Linked DNA regions of Homo sapiens: region 2 is linked to region 1. A link means that fine-mapping ties the variant in region 1 to the expression of a gene that starts in the linked region. Tissue or cell type: anterior cingulate cortex. Region 1 holds a variant in brackets; the other region holds the start of a gene. All regions are shown on one strand. Distances are from middle to middle.

What was found. PIP is the estimated chance that this variant, and not a neighbour inherited with it, causes the effect.
Region 2: CA11 starts here. The variant in region 1 is fine-mapped to the expression of CA11 in anterior cingulate cortex (GTEx, PIP 0.96).

The regions. Positions count from the first base shown.
Region 1 is chr19:48,186,704-48,194,788 of GRCh38, reverse strand. It overlaps ZSWIM9 (zinc finger SWIM-type containing 9), which reads right to left. Exons shown (of 4, transcript NM_199341.4): 4 at 1-136. Among named protein-coding and RNA genes, the nearest start is that of ZSWIM9, 20 kb to the right of the region's middle. RefSeq lists a silencer at 6,161-6,393 and an enhancer at 7,987-8,046. The variant G/C (reference allele first, on the strand shown) is at 4,118.
Region 2 is chr19:48,642,615-48,650,702 of GRCh38, reverse strand. It overlaps CA11 (carbonic anhydrase 11), which reads left to right and starts at 4,516. Exons shown (of 9, transcript NM_001217.5): 1 at 4,516-5,137; 2 at 5,226-5,300; 3 at 6,134-6,276. The coding sequence starts at 5,071. It also overlaps the pseudogene SEC1P. RefSeq lists silencers at 3,898-4,307, 4,338-4,527 and enhancers at 4,485-5,185, 5,186-5,886, 5,887-6,588.

The DNA of each region.
Region 1 (8,085 bases):
CCAGCGCGCCCTGCAGCCCCGGCAGCCGGTCCACCAGCAGCATGCGAGGGAAGCGCCGCAGCAGCGCCCTGGTGCGCGACGTCAGGAAGAACACCGTCTCCACCACAGCCTGGTCCTCCACGAACACCAGCTTCACCTGCGGGCGGGGGCAGGGAGGCAAGGAAAGAGGTCAGAGGATGCTGGGGTCTCCCCGCCCAGCTCCCCGACCTCGGTTTCCCCTTCTACGGAAATGGGACCACCCATTCATTCTTGCCTGCATATGCATTTATTCTTTTGACCGGCAGGAGGCAGTGCAGGGAAATGGTTAAAAACACTCTGGAGCCGGATTGCCTGGGTTTGAGATCCAGGTACCACAGTCTAACGGCTATGTGATTTTTTCCACATGACACTTTTAGCTTCTCTGAGCCTCAGTTTCCTCCGCCGGAAGCTGGCTATTCATTCCTCCGTGTGCTGAGAGGCAGTCTAGGGCAGTGGGTCTCAAAATGTGGGCCCTGGACCAGCAGCATCACCATCGGTTCTTGGGACCTGGACAGAAATGCACCTTCTCGGGGCCACCTCAGACCCACTGAGTCTGAAACTCTGGGGGCGGGCCCCAGCAATCTAGTTTGACAAGCCCTCCAGGGGACTCCTATGCATGCTTAAGGATGACTGGTCTGGTGGTAATGAGCTTAGATTGTGGAGGCAGATCATTTAGCTTTGAGTCCCACCCCCAACACTTCTGAACCCTGCGATTTAACCTCTCTGTGCCTCAGTTGCCTCCTTAACCTCCATATTCCCTGATTATCCCTTCTAGGCACTGAACATTCATTTCTCCATGCACTGAGAGGCAGGACAGTGGTGAAAAGCATAGCCTCTGAGGCCAAGATCCCTGGGCTGAGATCCTGGAGCCCCTGCTTCCTGGCTGTGTGCCTTCTGCCAACTTCCCTAACCTCCCTTTCATTTGTAAAGTGATGATAATAAGAGCATCTCTGTGATTGGAAAGATGAGATGCATTCAAGCATTTAGAACATTGCCTGGTACATATATTACTGTTATTACTTATCCAACAAATAGTAAGTGTTCTGAAAGTGGCCATTATAATTATCGTCTCTGTTCAAACATCACGTCCCGCTCTTCTGTGACTTCCCAACTAAGCAGACACCCCATCTCTCTCTGCCTCCTTTTGGCCATGGCACTTACCACCCTTTGGCAAGTCATATCTTCGTTTCCTGATCTGCCCATTGCCTGCTTGCCCTCCTTAAGATGGAAGCCCCACAAGCACAGGGATGTTCCCCTTCGGGATGGTCTCTCCTGGCCTCTGCCCTATGTGGCTCTTCCCTTTGCTGATTTTATTCCGTGTCCTTCTGCTGTAATAAACTGTAGCCTTGGCTATAACAGCACCCCTGATGCTTTGAATGCTACCTGCCCTGGAACAATGGCTCAATACATCCTGAGTGAGTGAACTCACGCGAGGGTGTGCAGCCATGTCCAAGGCCACATCTGTAAGGGTGGAGGTTTAAGGATCAGACTCCTGGATTTGCCTATTAGCCGTGGGACTTCAGGCAAGTGACCTCTCCTCAATGAGCCTTGGTTCCTTGTCTGGAAAAATGGAGATGTCTATTTAACAGGGTCATGGATGGGCTAAAATGAGATCACTCCTGGCCAACGCATGGAAGGACACCTGGCGTGCATCAGCTCTCAGCCGTTCTTACCGTCTGTCTCGATCTCTCAGCAGTATTCAGCACAAGTCTACATGGCTGACCCCAATAACAACCCTGGACACCAAGGCCCAAGTAAGTGTCCCTGGCTAGCAATACATCATTGTTGTCACATGTCATTGCTGGGAGAACTGAGCACTGTCCATGGGACTTCACTGAGAGACGACATCTGGCAGCTCATGCTGGTCTCTCTTGGCCTCTGCCCTATGTGCTGCTGTTAGATAATTAAGGAATCAGAGAGACTGATGGGGTCGCCTTGTGTGGCTCTTGCCTTTGCTGATTTTACTCTGTATCCTTTTGCTGTAATAAACTGTAGCCTTGACTATAACAATTTTTCTCAGTTCTGTGATTCCTTCTAGTGAATCATGGAAACTGAGGGTGGTCTTAGGGACCCCCATCTGCACCAGAGGAGTGACTTGCCCAAGGCCACTGCGCTAACAAGCAGTGATGCTGGGATCCAATAGATCCGGGCCATTAGGAATGATTGGAAACAAAAGCAGTAGGTGGGAGAACATGCATGGGCGGCATTTTAAGGGGCAGGGTGACATTTGATGAAGGCGGGGCTATGTAAATGTGTGTGTGTGTGTGTGTGTATATATATATATATATATTTTTTTTTTTTTTTTTTTTTTTTTTTTTTTTGAGACAGAGTCTCACTCTGTCGCCCTGGCTGGAGTGCAGTGGCGTGATCTTGGCTCACTGCAACCTCTGCCTCCCGGGTTCAAGCGATTCTTCCTCCTCAGCCTCCCAAGTAGTTGGGATTACAGGTGCCCGCCACCACGCCTGGCTAATTTTTGTATTATTAGTAGAGATGGGGTTTCACCATGTTGGCCAGGCTGATGAATACATTTTTCTGCCAGATATTTACTGAGAAAATATGATGTGCCATGTGCTGGCTCAGGCACAGAGGAGAACAAATGAGACACACCACTGAGTGAGAGGAGACAGCCCCCAGGCCAAGGATAAATAAATATAAAAAAGAAGGTTTCGGGTGTGCAAAGCACACATGAAGTAGTTTCTCTGCACCAGGCACAGTTCCAACAGCTAATCTTTCATCCTTACAATATCCCTGTAAGATAGATACTATGATTCTCATTCCCCTTTTTCAGATGAGGACACCGAGGCACACACGGCTTCAGTTGCTTGCCTGGAGTCACCCATGCGATTTGCAATACCAGGTGAGCTGGGATTTGAACCCTGACAGCTTGGGTCCAGGGCTTCTTGTTCCTGACCACTCTACCCTACAGCCTTCAAAAAATTGACCAAACAGGGCTGGCTTAGGCACACAGTGGACAGCAGTGCATTTTGCAGAGATGGAGAAACCCACGGAGGAACAGATTTTGAGGATGCAGATGAATGTACGGGTGTCCTTTCAGACACACAAATTGGTAGCACGGGGAAGCATCTGCCATAGACGACAGATTCCACAAACATGAACATCAGAAACCATGCCTTTACTACTTTCCATTCACACCTCTTCCGACACGTGAGTAAACCTTCCCTTTTCCATGTGATCAGAATGTTCACATGAAACTGTTCTCCAGACTGCCCCAAAGAAAAAATTGAAGGAATAAAAATAATAGCTAAGGCTGGGCACAGTGGCTTACGCCTGTAATCCCAGCACTTTGGGAAGCCGAGGCAGGTGGATCACCTGAGGTCAGGAGTTCAAGACCAGCCTGACCAACATGGTGAAACCCCACCTCTATTAAAAATACAAAAATTAGCTGGGCGTGGTGGTGCGCGCCTGTAATCTCAGCTACTTGGGAGGCTGAGACAGGAGAATTGCTTGAACCCGGGAGGCGGAGGCTGCAGTGAGCCGAGATTGTGCCACTGTACTCCAGCCTGGGCGACAGAGAGAGACTCCATCTCAAAAAAACAAACAAACAAACAACAACAACAAAATAATAGCTAAATATTGAACATATGCAGGGCTTCCTACTTCTGGGCACGGTTCTACCCATTCTGCACACACACACACACACACACACACACACACACATACACATACACACTGCACTTTCTCACACAACAACCCCAACAGCCCTATAAGATAGTATTATCCCCATTTTACAGATAAATGAACTAAGGGTTGGAGAAGGTAAATAGGTTGTTCATAACTTGTTCCATGTCCCACAGCTAGTAACTGGCACAGCCAGAACATTCATAAAGCTTTCAGCACATAGCAACATAAATAAAATCAAGTCACCAGCTGTTACTATAACACCCCAAAATGGCTTCATGTGAAAACAGGCTATACGGCATAGAAAATATTCCCTCTGGGAGCCATGAAAAACTAGAAAAGCTGAAACTAAGCTGCAGGAGGCCTGTGTAACTACATAGCAGGGGAAACACGAGCCCCATATTCAGACAGGGCTTTGGGCGGCCCTTGATGAAACAGTACCCTGTGGTTATCTTTTGCC[G/C]CTTGCCAAGAAATTGCAGTTCTCCCTCTCCCGGGCACTTAGTAGCGTTGCACCTCCCTGCCCCCTTGCAGGTAAGCAGTGTCATGTGACTTGCTTTGGCCAATCAAGTGTGAGTGGGAGGGAGCTGCGGCATCGCATCCAAGGAGAAGCCTTCGCAGCCACCGCTGCCAGATATGGTAATTACGTTGGGCTGAATGCCCATCCTCCTGGGTCCCAGAATGACTCAGATAAACAGTACTCCCCCAACATCCCGTGGTGGCTGTGTAAGTGAGCAAGAAATAAAATTCAATGAGTTCAGCCACTGAGATTTGAGGGCTGTTCATTATTACAGCAAAACCTAGGCCATCCTGACTCACACAACCTCAAGACCCTCTATAACTCGCCCTCTAATTTTTCCTTTGAGGAGAGAAACAAATGCGTTTAGTATGTTGGGACTATTGCTTAATTTTCTTTCTTTTTTTTTTTTTTGAGATGGAGTCTCAATCTGTCACCCAGGCTGGAGTACAGTGGCATGATCTCGGCTCACTGCGACCTCCGCCACCCCAGGTTTAAGTGATTCTTCTGCCTCAGTCTCCCGAGTAGCTGGGACTACAGGCACCCACGAGCATGCCTGGCTAATTTATGTATTTTTAGTAGAGACGGGGTTTCACCATGTTGGCCAAGCTGGTCTCAAACTCTTGACCTCAAGTGATCCACCCACCTCAGCCTCTCGAAGTGCTGGGATTACAGGTGTGAGCCACTGCGCCCACCTTCTATTTTCATCTTCTTTTTAAGAATTAATTATTTGAATATGCAAACATCCACATGGTCCTAAAGTCAAATAATGTAAAGCGATACATAAAAGGTCTTACTCCCACCTCTTTAGTCTAATCAGTCAGTTTCCATTCACTATTCTACCCTCATCCACAGTTCTTGGTATTCTTCTAGAGTTTCTTTATATGAGTACAAGTAAGCATACCTATAATTCTTATTTGCTCTATTTTATAGATAATACAGCATATTATGTACAGTTTTGCATTTTGCTTTTTTAACTTAAAAATGTGTTTGAGAGATCTTTCAAAATAGTTCCTAGACTTGTTCTTATTCTTTTTTTTTTGTTTGTTTAGGATGGAGTCTCACTCTGTCGCCCAGGCTGGAGTGCAGTAGCACGATCTTGGCTCGCTGCAAGCTACGCCTCCTGAGTTCACACCATTCTCCTGCCTCAGCCTCCCGAGTAGCTGGGACTACAGGTGCCTGCCACCATGCCTGGCTAATTTTTTGTATTTTTAGTAGTGACAGGGTTTCACCATGTGAGCCAGGATGGTCTTGATCTCCTGACCTTGTGATCTGCCCGCCTCGGCTTCCCAAAGTTCTCATTCTTTTTTAGTGCTGTGTAGTAATCCATGGATGGATATACCACAAGTTATGTAACCATTACCCGTTGGTGGAGTCTGGGTTGTTTCTAATCTGCTGCTTTCACAAACAACAATGATTAACCTTGTAAGTAAGTCCTTCCACAGCTGTGCAACTACATCTGCAGGATAAATCACCAGTAGTGGGATTGTGAGCCTAAGGGTGAGTGTTCTTGTCATTTTGATAGATATTGCTAAATTGCCCTCCACTGAGATCATACCAGCTTCCCATGGAGTATTCTTTTTTTTTGAGATGGAGTCTCGCTCTGTCACCCAGGCTGGAGTACAGTGGTGTGAGCTCAGCTCACTGCAAGCTCCGCCTTCCGGGTTCACGCCATTCTCCTGCCTCAGCCTCCCAAGTAGCTGGGACTACAGGCGCCTGCCACCACACCTGGCTAATTTTTTGTATTTTTAGTAGAGACGGGGTTTCACCATGTTAGCCAGGCTGGTCTCGATCTCCTGACCTCGTGATCCACCCGCCTCAGCCTCCCAAAGTGCTGGGCTTACAGGTGTGAGCCATCACGCCTGGCCCCATTGAGTATTCTTAAAAGGGATACACTTGCATCAATGCTCGCCATTCTCAGAAGGCAAAGCATACACGTAAGAGAACGCTGCAACGTTTCCGGGCAAGGTCTCTCTTTTCAGGGCTTGCTTGCTGGTTACCCTGGTGCCTGCCACAAGTGAGGGAATGGAGATGTGACTGGACCCCAAAGCCCATCATCATCAGGCAGGGCAGGTGATAAAAGGTGTTAAAGGTTGGGTGCGGTGGCTCACGCCTGTAATCCCAGCACTTTGGGAGGCCGAGGCAGGCAGATCACCAGGCCAGGAGATCGAGACCATTCTGGCCAACATGATGAAACCCCATCTCTACTAAAACACACACACACAAAATTAGCCAGGCCTGGTGGCGCACGCCTGTAGTCCCAGCTACTCAAGAGGCTGAGGCACAAGAATCACCTGAACCTGGGAGATGGAGGTCGTGCTGAGCCAAGATTGCGCCACTGCACTCCAGCCTGGGAGACAGAGCGAGACTCCATCTCAAAAAAAAAAAAAGGTATTAACACCTCCCTGGGTGAAGTCGCCCCCCAGTCTTGCCCTTAAATCATGCCTTGTGGCTTTGGGCGCATCCTTCTTGTCTGATCCCCTCCAAAGATCAAGAGAGCAACCCAACTCAGGAAGTGCAGGCACTTTTTACAAATAATCCTTCCTTTGGAAGACTGCTGGGAAGTGGAAAGACTGATTGTTGCTTGACCTAGGCTTGGGATGAAAATTTAAAGCTTGCTGTCTGTCTGTCTATCTATCTATCTATCTATCTATCTATCTATCTATCTATCTATCTATTTAAAGGGTCTCACTCTGTTGTCAAGGCTGGAGTACAGTGGTGTGATCATAGCTTACTGCAGCCTGAAGCTCCTGGGCTCAAGCAACCCTCGTGCCTCAGCCTCTTGAGTAGCTGGGACTACAGATGCATGCCACCATGCCTAATTTTTTTTTTTTTAATTTTTTGTAGAGACAGGTGCTCGTTATGTTGGCCAGGCTGGTCTTGAACTCCTGGGCTCAAGTGATCCTCTCGCTTCGGCCTCCCAAAGTGCTGAGATTACAGGTGTGAGCCATCGCACCTATTATATTATCAATATTACATGTTATGCGTTACATATTATAATATTAATATAATATATAATATTATATTATATAATATATAATATATATAATATTATATATAATATATATAATATAATATAATAATAATATAATATATAATATATATAATATAATATAATATATTATAATATAATATATAATATATATAATATATATAATTAATATATAATATATAATATATATAATATAATATAATATATAATTATAATATATAATTAATATAATATATTAATTATTACATTATACTGTTATATTACTACTGTATTATTAACATAATAATATAGAACTCTTTCATTAGATTTTATAAGTGAAAAAAAGGTGAAATTTCTGTGTAAAAGTGATGGATTGAACACCTCTCTAGTTTCACTCTCTCTTGAACCTCAATTACATCTTTTTTTTAAAATGGCTTTTTTTTTTTTTTAAATCAGAGGCAATATGATAGGGACAGAACTTTGGAAACTGGAAAGCAGCTGGACATGCTAATCCCACCCCACCCCTAAAAACCCATGAATCCTAAGCCAGCAATTGAGGGATGCTGAGAACCGGTAGCAAAGTCCTCAAAAGGAGCTGGCAACACCAGGCCAGTTTTGCAGAAGGCAAAATAAAGACGAACTGAGGGCTGTTTCAGCAGCAGCTAGACCTCCAAATCTCGTTTCCCCTCTCCCCTTACTCTTCCCCCACCCCCAGTGACTGGGGGTTTATTCTGTAGACAGGGTGAAACAGAAAGGGGCCGCTGGCTTTGGGGACATCTGGCCCATCTGAAGATGAGGGAGGGGGATTCTGAACCCCAAGTGGGTACTGAGTGCGTCTTGCTGGCTGAATGCCTGACAGCTCCCTGCCTCTGCCCCTGCAGCTCCCAGAAGCTGGCAGCCTGGCCCTGGCAGCCTGGCCTTCACCCCCCGCCAGGAGGCCAGA
Region 2 (8,088 bases), 460 kb before region 1:
CTGAGATGGGTTCTCATTGTGTTGTCCAGGCTGGTCTCAAACTCCTGGGCTCAAGTGATCCTCCTGCCTCAGCTTCCCAAAGCACTGGAATTACAGATATAAGCCACTGCACCCGGCCCCTCCCAAGTCTTTAAGGGTCCATCTCTCCACAACTCTGTGTCTCTCTTCCTCTCCCCACCTGTGGTGGTTTGAAAATTAATCCCCAAATTCTGTGATACGTTTCCTTTCAAGAGCAAAGGATTTTTTTTTTTTTTTTTAGACAGGGTCTCATTCTGTCGCCCAGGCTGGAATGCAATGGCTCGATATTGGCTCACTGCAACCTCTGCCTCCCAGCTTCAAGCGATTCTCCTGCCTCAACCTCCTGAGTAGCTGGGATTACAGGCACACGCCACCATGCTCGGCTAATTTTTGTATTTTTTTTTTTTTTGAGACAGTCTTGCTCTGTCACCCAGGCTGGAGTGCAGTGGCGCGATCTCAGCTCACTGCAAGCTCCGCCTCCTGGGTTCACGCCATTCTCTTGCCTCAGCCTCCAGAGTAGCTAGGACTACAGGCGCCCACCACCACGCCCGGCTAATTTTTTGTATTTTTAGTAGAGACGGGGTTTCACCGTGGTCTCGATCTGCTGACCTCATGATCCGCCCGCCTCAGCCTCCCAAAGTGCTGGGATTACAAGCGTGAGCCAACACGCCCGGCCAATTTTTGTATTTTTAATAGAGACGAGGTTTCACCATGTTGGCCAGGCTGCTCTTGAACTCCTGATCTCAAGTGATCTGCCTTCCTCGGCCTCCCAAAGTGCTGGGATTACAGGCGTGAGCCACCGCTCCCGGCCCAAGAGCAGAGGATCCTAACGTCTTTCCTTTTGAGTGTAGGCTAGATCTAGTGACTCATTTCTGATGCGTGGAATAAAAGGTGTGTGACTTTGGGAGACTAGGTCATAAAAGACTTGAGATGACTGCAGCCCTGTCCAACAGTTTCACTGCACCCTCAAGAAGGATCCAGAACCACCCAATGAAGCCATTCCCACATTCCTGGCCCTCAGGAACTGTGAACACAATAAATGTTTGTTGTTTTAAGCCACTGAGTTTTAGGGTAATTTGTCACACAACAACAGATTTTTTTGTCGTTGTTTTGTTTTGTTTTGTCGTTGTTTTTGAGACAGTCTCACTCTTTGCCCAGGCTGGAGGGCACTGGTGTGATCTCGGCTCACTGCAACCTCCACTTCCTGAGTTCAAGTGATTCTCATGCCTCATCCTCCCGAGCAGCTGGGACTAGAGGCATGCGTCACCACACCCGGCTAATTTTTGTTTTTGTTTTTTTTTTTTTTTTGAGACAGAGTCTCACTCTGTCGCCCAGGCTGGAGTGCAGTGGCGCAATCTCGGCGTGTGCCACCATGCCCAGCTAATTTTTGTATTTTTAGCAGAGACACGGTTTCACCATGCTGGTGAGGCCAGTCTCGAAATCCTGACCTTGTGATCCGCCCGCCTTGGCCTCCCAAAGTGCTGGGATTACAGGCGTGAGCCACTGCGCCCAGCCTAATTTTTGTATTTTTGGTAAAGACGGGGTTTCACCACGTTGGTCAGGCTGGTCTCAAACTCCTGACCTCAAGTGATCTGCCTTCCTCGGCCTCCCAAAGTGCTGGAATTACAGGCGTGAGCTGCCGTTCCCCAACTATTTTTTTCTTTTTCTTTTTTCTTTTTTTTTTTTTTTTTTGAGACGGAGTCTCGCTCTGTCGCCCAGGCTGGAGTGCAGTGGCGTGATCTCAGCTCACTGCAAGCTCCACCTCCCGGGTTCACGCCATTCTCCTGCCTCAGCCTCCCGAGGAGCTGGGACTACAGGCGCCCGCCACCGCGCCCGGCTAATTTTTTGTATTTTTAGTAGAGATGGGGTTTCACCGTGGTCTCAATCTCCTGACCTCGTGATCCGCCCGCTTCAGCTTCCCAAAGTGCTAGGATTACAGGTGTGAGCCACTGTGCCCGGCCTGTTTTTTTCTTTTTCATAAAAAATAGAGACGAGGTCTTACTATGTTGCCCAGGCTGGTCTCAAACTCTTGATCTCAAGTGATCCTCCCTCCTCAGCCTCCCAAAGTGCTGGGATTACAGGCATGAACCACCAAGCCCCGCCAGCAATAAATTATTAGTATGTACCTTTCCTTCTTGTGTTTTTTCTTCGTGTCTCTCTCCACCCCTGACTCTCTGGGTTTCTTTCTGGGTGTCTCTCTCCATCTCTAGGTCTTTGAATGTCCATCCCAATTTGCTATCTCTGAATACCTCTGTCTTTCTGATTCCTTTGTAGTCTCTCCCATCATGTCAGTTGGTCTGCTTCTGGTCCTCTCTCCCTCTATCTGGGTCTCTCTATCTCTGTCCATCTGTTCCTCTCTGTTGATGTCTCTTTCTCTGCACGAGTGTCTCTATTTATAGATGTGTGTGTGCCTGTTCCCAGGTCTCTGTCTCTAGCTCTGTGTGTGTGTTTCTTTCTTTCTTTCTTTTTTTTTTTTTTTTTGAGATGGAGTCTCACTCTGTTGCCCAGGCTGGAGTGCACTGTTGGGATCTCGGCTCACTGTAGCCTCCACCTACCCGGTTCAAGCGATTCTCCTGTCTCAGCCTCCTGAGTAGCCGGGATTATAGGTGTGTGCCACCACGCTCAGCTAGTTTTTGTATTTTTTAGTAGAAACGGGGTTGCACCATTTTGGTCAGGCTGGTCTTGAACTCCTGACCTCAGGTGATCCACCCACCTCGACCACCCTAAGTGCTGGGATTACAGGCGTGAGCCACCATGCCTGGCTAAGTTTTTATGTATTTAGTAGAGATGGCATTTGGCCATGTTGGCCGGGCTGGTCTCAGTCTCCTGGCCTCAAGTGATCCATCCACCTTGACCTCCCAGAGTTCTGGGATTACAGGTGTGAGCCACCATGCTCAGTCTGTGTGTGTGTTTCTATGTCTCTCCCTCTCTGTGTCTCTCTCCACCTGTACTGATGTATGTGTGTCTCTTTCTATGTCTCTCTGTCTCGTTAATGTTTGGTGTCAGGCTGGACAAGGTGGCTCACACCTGTAATCCCAGCACTTTGGGAGGCCAAGGCAGGAGGATCCCTTGAGCCCAGGGGTTCCGGACCAGCCTGGGCATCATAGCAAGACTACATCTCTACAAAAAATAATTTTTAAAAATTAGCCTGGCATGGTGGCATGTGCCTGTAGTCCCAACTATTTGGGAGGCTGAGGTGGAAGGAGTGTTTAAGCCCAGGAGGTCGAGGCTGGATCAAGCCATGATCGCACCACTGCTCTCCAGCCTGGGTGACATTGCAAGGCTTGTCTCAAAAAAGAAAATAAAAGAAGACAATGAGCAGTTTCACTACCATTAGACGGGGTGAAAAATAATAAATAACAACAACAACAGTAATATGTGGTCTCTCTGAGGCTGGGTATGGTTGTTCATGCCTGTAATCTCAATGCTTTGGGAGGCCAAGGTGGGAGGATCCCTTGAGGACAGGAGTTTGAGACTAGCCTGAGCAACATAGCATGACCCCATCTCTTCTCCCCAAATACAAAAATGTGGTGTCTCTCTCTGTCTTTGGATCGCTCTTTCTCTCTTTTTGTCTCTCCCCACCCCATCTGCTGCTTGGTCTCTGAGTTTCTGTCTATCTCTAAGTGTGTGTCTCTATGTCTCCATGTCTGTCTCGCTGCGTCTCTGTATCTCCTTTTCTGCCTCTATCTGTATCTCTCTCATTCATTCCTTCCTCTCTCCCTCCCCCTCCTCCTCTCCCTCCTCCCCCTCCTCTCCCTCCCCCTCCTCTCCCTCCTCCCCCTCCTCCTTCACCTCCTCCCCCTCCTCCTCACTCCTGCCTGGCGGTTTGTTCTTGCCTCTCTAACCTTCTGTCCCTCCGCCCTTCCTCTCCGTATCCATCTCAGGCTCCCTTCCCCTCCCCAGCCTACGCAGATGTGGGTCCTCACCTCCCGCTCTCCGCCTCTGCCCTCCCGGCTCCTCCTCCCCGCCCCTCTCTCCCTCGCCAGGTCTCTGCCTCCCCCTCCAGGCGAGCAGCCCTCACTGCACTTCAGGCTCCTAGGGGATCCCCCGGCCCCGTTAAGGCAGCCCCAGGCAGAGACCCAGTGGAGCCCTGGGGCGGGGAAGGGGGGCTGCGGGCGCTGGGGCGGCTCCAACCTGGGTCCCAGCGAGCAGGGGGACCCTGCATCCGCCAAGGCCGGCGGCCCCCAGCATGGAGACTTCCGAAGCCACTCCCAGCTCCACCTTAAGCGCCCCCCCTTCCCCTTGCTGCGGAGGATGGAAACAGCCTGCTCCCGGCCCCAGGTGTCCCGGCCACCCCCGCCCGCGTGGCCCCAGCGCGGCTGGGAGCCGAGGACCAGCCCCCTACCTCCTTCCGAATCCTGCCCTTTCGCACATCCCACCCCAAGCCAACCCGAGGAGTGTTTGCCGCTATGAGATCACCTGCTCCCCCAGCCCAACAACAAAATTAAATAACACCACGGGAGAGGAGAGAGGGAGGGGGAGGAGGGAGGAAGGGACAAGAGAGAAGAGAGACTGAAACAGGGAGAAGAGGCAGGAGAGGAGGAGGTGGGGAGAGCACGAAGCTGGAGGCCGACACTGAGGGAGGGCGGGAGGAGGTGAAGAAGGAGAGAGGGGAGAAGAGGCAGGAGCTGGAAAGGAGAGAGGGAGGAGGAGGAGGAGATGCGGGATGGAGACCTGGAGTTAGGTGGCTTGGGAGAGCTTAATGAAAAGAGAACGGAGAGGAGGTGTGGGTTAGGAACCAAGAGGTAGCCCTGGGGGCAGCAGAAGGCTGAGAGGAGTAGGAAGATCAGGAGCTAGAGGGAGACTGGAGGGTTCCGGGAAAAGAGCAGAGGAAAGAGGAAAGACACAGAGAGACGGGAGAGAGAAGAAGAGTGGGTTTGAAGGGCGGATCTCAGTCCCTGGCTGCTTTGGCATTTGGGGAACTGGGACTCCCTGTGGGGAGGAGAGGAAAGCTGGAAGTCCTGGAGGGACAGGGTCCCAGAAGGAGGGGACAGAGGAGCTGAGAGAGGGGGGCAGGGCGTTGGGCAGGGGTCCCTCGGAGGCCTCCTGGGGATGGGGGCTGCAGCTCGTCTGAGCGCCCCTCGAGCGCTGGTACTCTGGGCTGCACTGGGGGCAGCAGGTAAGACCTGGGGTTCCCGGGAGGAGCCCCCGAGGGAGGGTGGAGGTGGGGATGCCAAGGAGAGGGATTCAGGCTGCTCTCTTCCCAGCTCACATCGGACCAGCACCTGACCCCGAGGACTGGTGGAGCTACAAGGATAATCTCCAGGGAAACTTCGTGCCAGGTGCCGCCAAGGCGGGGACCCAGGAGTCCGGCCCTCCCGGCGCCTCCTTCTTCAGACTCAGGAACCTGGGTTCCCAGCTCCCTCCTCCCCCCCAGGACCAGGAGTCCCAGCCCCCTCCTCTGTCCCTCAGGAGTCGGGCCAGCTTCTGAACCCCAGGGGCTCACCATGGGACATTATACATGCGCATTTCAAGTAGTGAGTGGGAGTGAGTGGAAGGAAAGTGTGGGGGTGGAGATTATGTGTGTGTTTGCCGGGAGAGGAAGGTCCTGGCTCCTGCTAGGAACCAGAGGCTGGGTGGCCCCGTCCCCCACCTTGTCCAGCCTTCTCTTGCAGCTCCTCTCCCCAACACATTAATAATAATCCAGCTGTGGGATAAGAGCGATTAAAAAAAAGAACTACAACTCCCACGGGGCTCTGGGGCAGGTAGGCAGCAGAGGGGTAGGCTGGTAGCACTGGGGCCTGCTGGGAGTTGTAGTTCCATCTACAGTGGCTTAAGATGGGTTTGATCGGCTGGGCGCGGTGGCTCACGCTTGAAATCCCAGCACTTTAGGAGGCCGAGGTGGGTGGATTACCTGTGGTCAGGAGTTCAAGACCAGCCTGGCCAACTTGGTGAAACCCGTCTCTGCTAAACTTGGAAACTATTCCAAGATTCTTCTAGGACCCAGAATTCTGGATCTGAGCCCAGTCCTCCCTCAGACCCAGGAGTCTAGGTCCCTAGCCCCTCCTCCCCTGGGATCTGGGAGTCCAGACCACAGCCCACTCAGCAGATACCAGCCCTGGGATCCAGTCTCTATTTCTGACTCCTTGTCCTCCTACTCCGACCCCACCCCCAGGGCCTCCTTTCTGGGGCCTGGTGAATGCAGCGTGGAGTCTGTGTGCTGTGGGGAAGCGGCAGAGCCCCGTGGATGTGGAGCTGAAGAGGGTTCTTTATGACCCCTTTCTGCCCCCATTAAGGCTCAGCACTGGAGGAGAGAAGGTAAGGGGCTTGGAGGGAGGAGCTATTGAACCCACTGGGGATGGGCATGAATAGAGGCTGGGGAATGGGGTGCTGAGGTAGGAGAGCAGCCTTGGGGGAGGAGGGGACACCCAGTGGGTGGAGAGGAGGCTGCTTACACTGTAAAATGGATCACCCATTCTTCCCATCCCAAGCATGGTCCCCTAGTCTCCCCATCTCTGCAGAAGCAATGAAAAGCAGAACATTTCCTGTGCCAGGCAGATTTAAAACCTTGATAAGCCTCTCATCTCATAACCACCCCACAAAATGGGTACAATTATTATTATTGTTATTATTATTATTATTATTTTGAGATGGAGTTTTGCTCTTGTTGCCCAGGCTGGAGTGCAATGATGTGATCTCAGCTCACTGCAACCTCCACCTCCCAGGTTCAAGCGATTCTCCTGCCCCAGCCTCCCGAGTAGTTGGGATTACAGGCATGCGCACCATCACGCCCAGCTAATTTTTTGTATTTTTAGCAGAGATGGGTTTTCTCCATTTTGGTCAGGCTGGTCTTGAACTCCTGACCTCAGGTGATCCACCTGCCTCGGCCTCCCAAAGTGCTAGGATTACAGGCATGAGCCACTGCGTCCAGCCAAAATGGGTACAATTATTAACCTTATTATATACATGCAGAAACTGACACACAGAGGTTAAGTTACTTGCCTAGGATCACACAGAGAGCCAGCACTGGCATTCAAACCAAGCAGCGTAGCATGAATGCTGGGACCTGCTTTATAGTACCATGCTGGGAACCATACTTTTTTTTTTTTTTTTTGGAATTGGGATCTCACTCTGTGACCCAGGCTGGAGTGCAGTGGCCCAGTCATAGCTCACTGTAACCTCAAATTCCTGGGCCCAAGTGATCTTCCTACCTCAGCCTCAAAAATAGCTAGGACATGCCTGGGTGTGGTGGTTCATGCCTGTAACCCCAGCACTTCGGGAGGCCGAGGTGGGTGGATCACGAGGTTAGGAGTTCGAGATCAGCCTGGCCAACATGGTGAAACCCCATCTCTACTAAAAATACAAAAATTAGCCGGGTGTGGTGGCATGTGCCTGTAATCCCAGCTACTTGAGAGGCTGAGGCAGGAGAATTGCTTGAACCCGGGAGGCGGAGGTTGCAGTGAGCTGACATCACGCCACTGGACTCCAGCCTGGGTGACAGAACAAGACTCCATCTCAGAAAGAAATAAATACAGAGAGAGAGGGAGAGAAAAGAAAGAGAGAGAGCGAGAAAGAAAGAGAGAAAGAGAGAAGGAAGGAAGGAAGGGAAGGAAGGAAAGGAAGGAAGAAGCCAGGACTGCAGGCACATGCCAGTATGCTTGGCTAACTTTTTAAGTTTTTTGTAGAGGTGGGGTCTCACTATGTTGTCCAGGCTGATGTCGAACTCCTGGGTTCAAGTGATCCTCCTTGCCTTGGCTTCCCAAGGTACTGGAATTACAGCTGTGATCCACCGCGCCTGGCCAATACCATTTCTTATAAGAGCCGGCACTGCCTTTCATTTAGCTGCCCCAGCCAAAAGCCTCAAAGCCATTCCCCATCCTATCCTCTCTCCCTCATGTCCATTTCCAATCCATGTTCTTTCTAGCCTTGCTGCTAAATATTATTCAAATCCTTTCACCTATCACGCCCTCTACTGCCCCCAGTCTCATGTAGGCACCATCATCTCCCACCTGGACTGGTGGCGTACCCTCCTCACTGGCCTGCCTCTCAACTTCCTGCAATCTATTCACCCCACAGCTAGAGAGATGTTTAAAACACAAATAAGATCATATCACTCCTGCTCAAAATCCT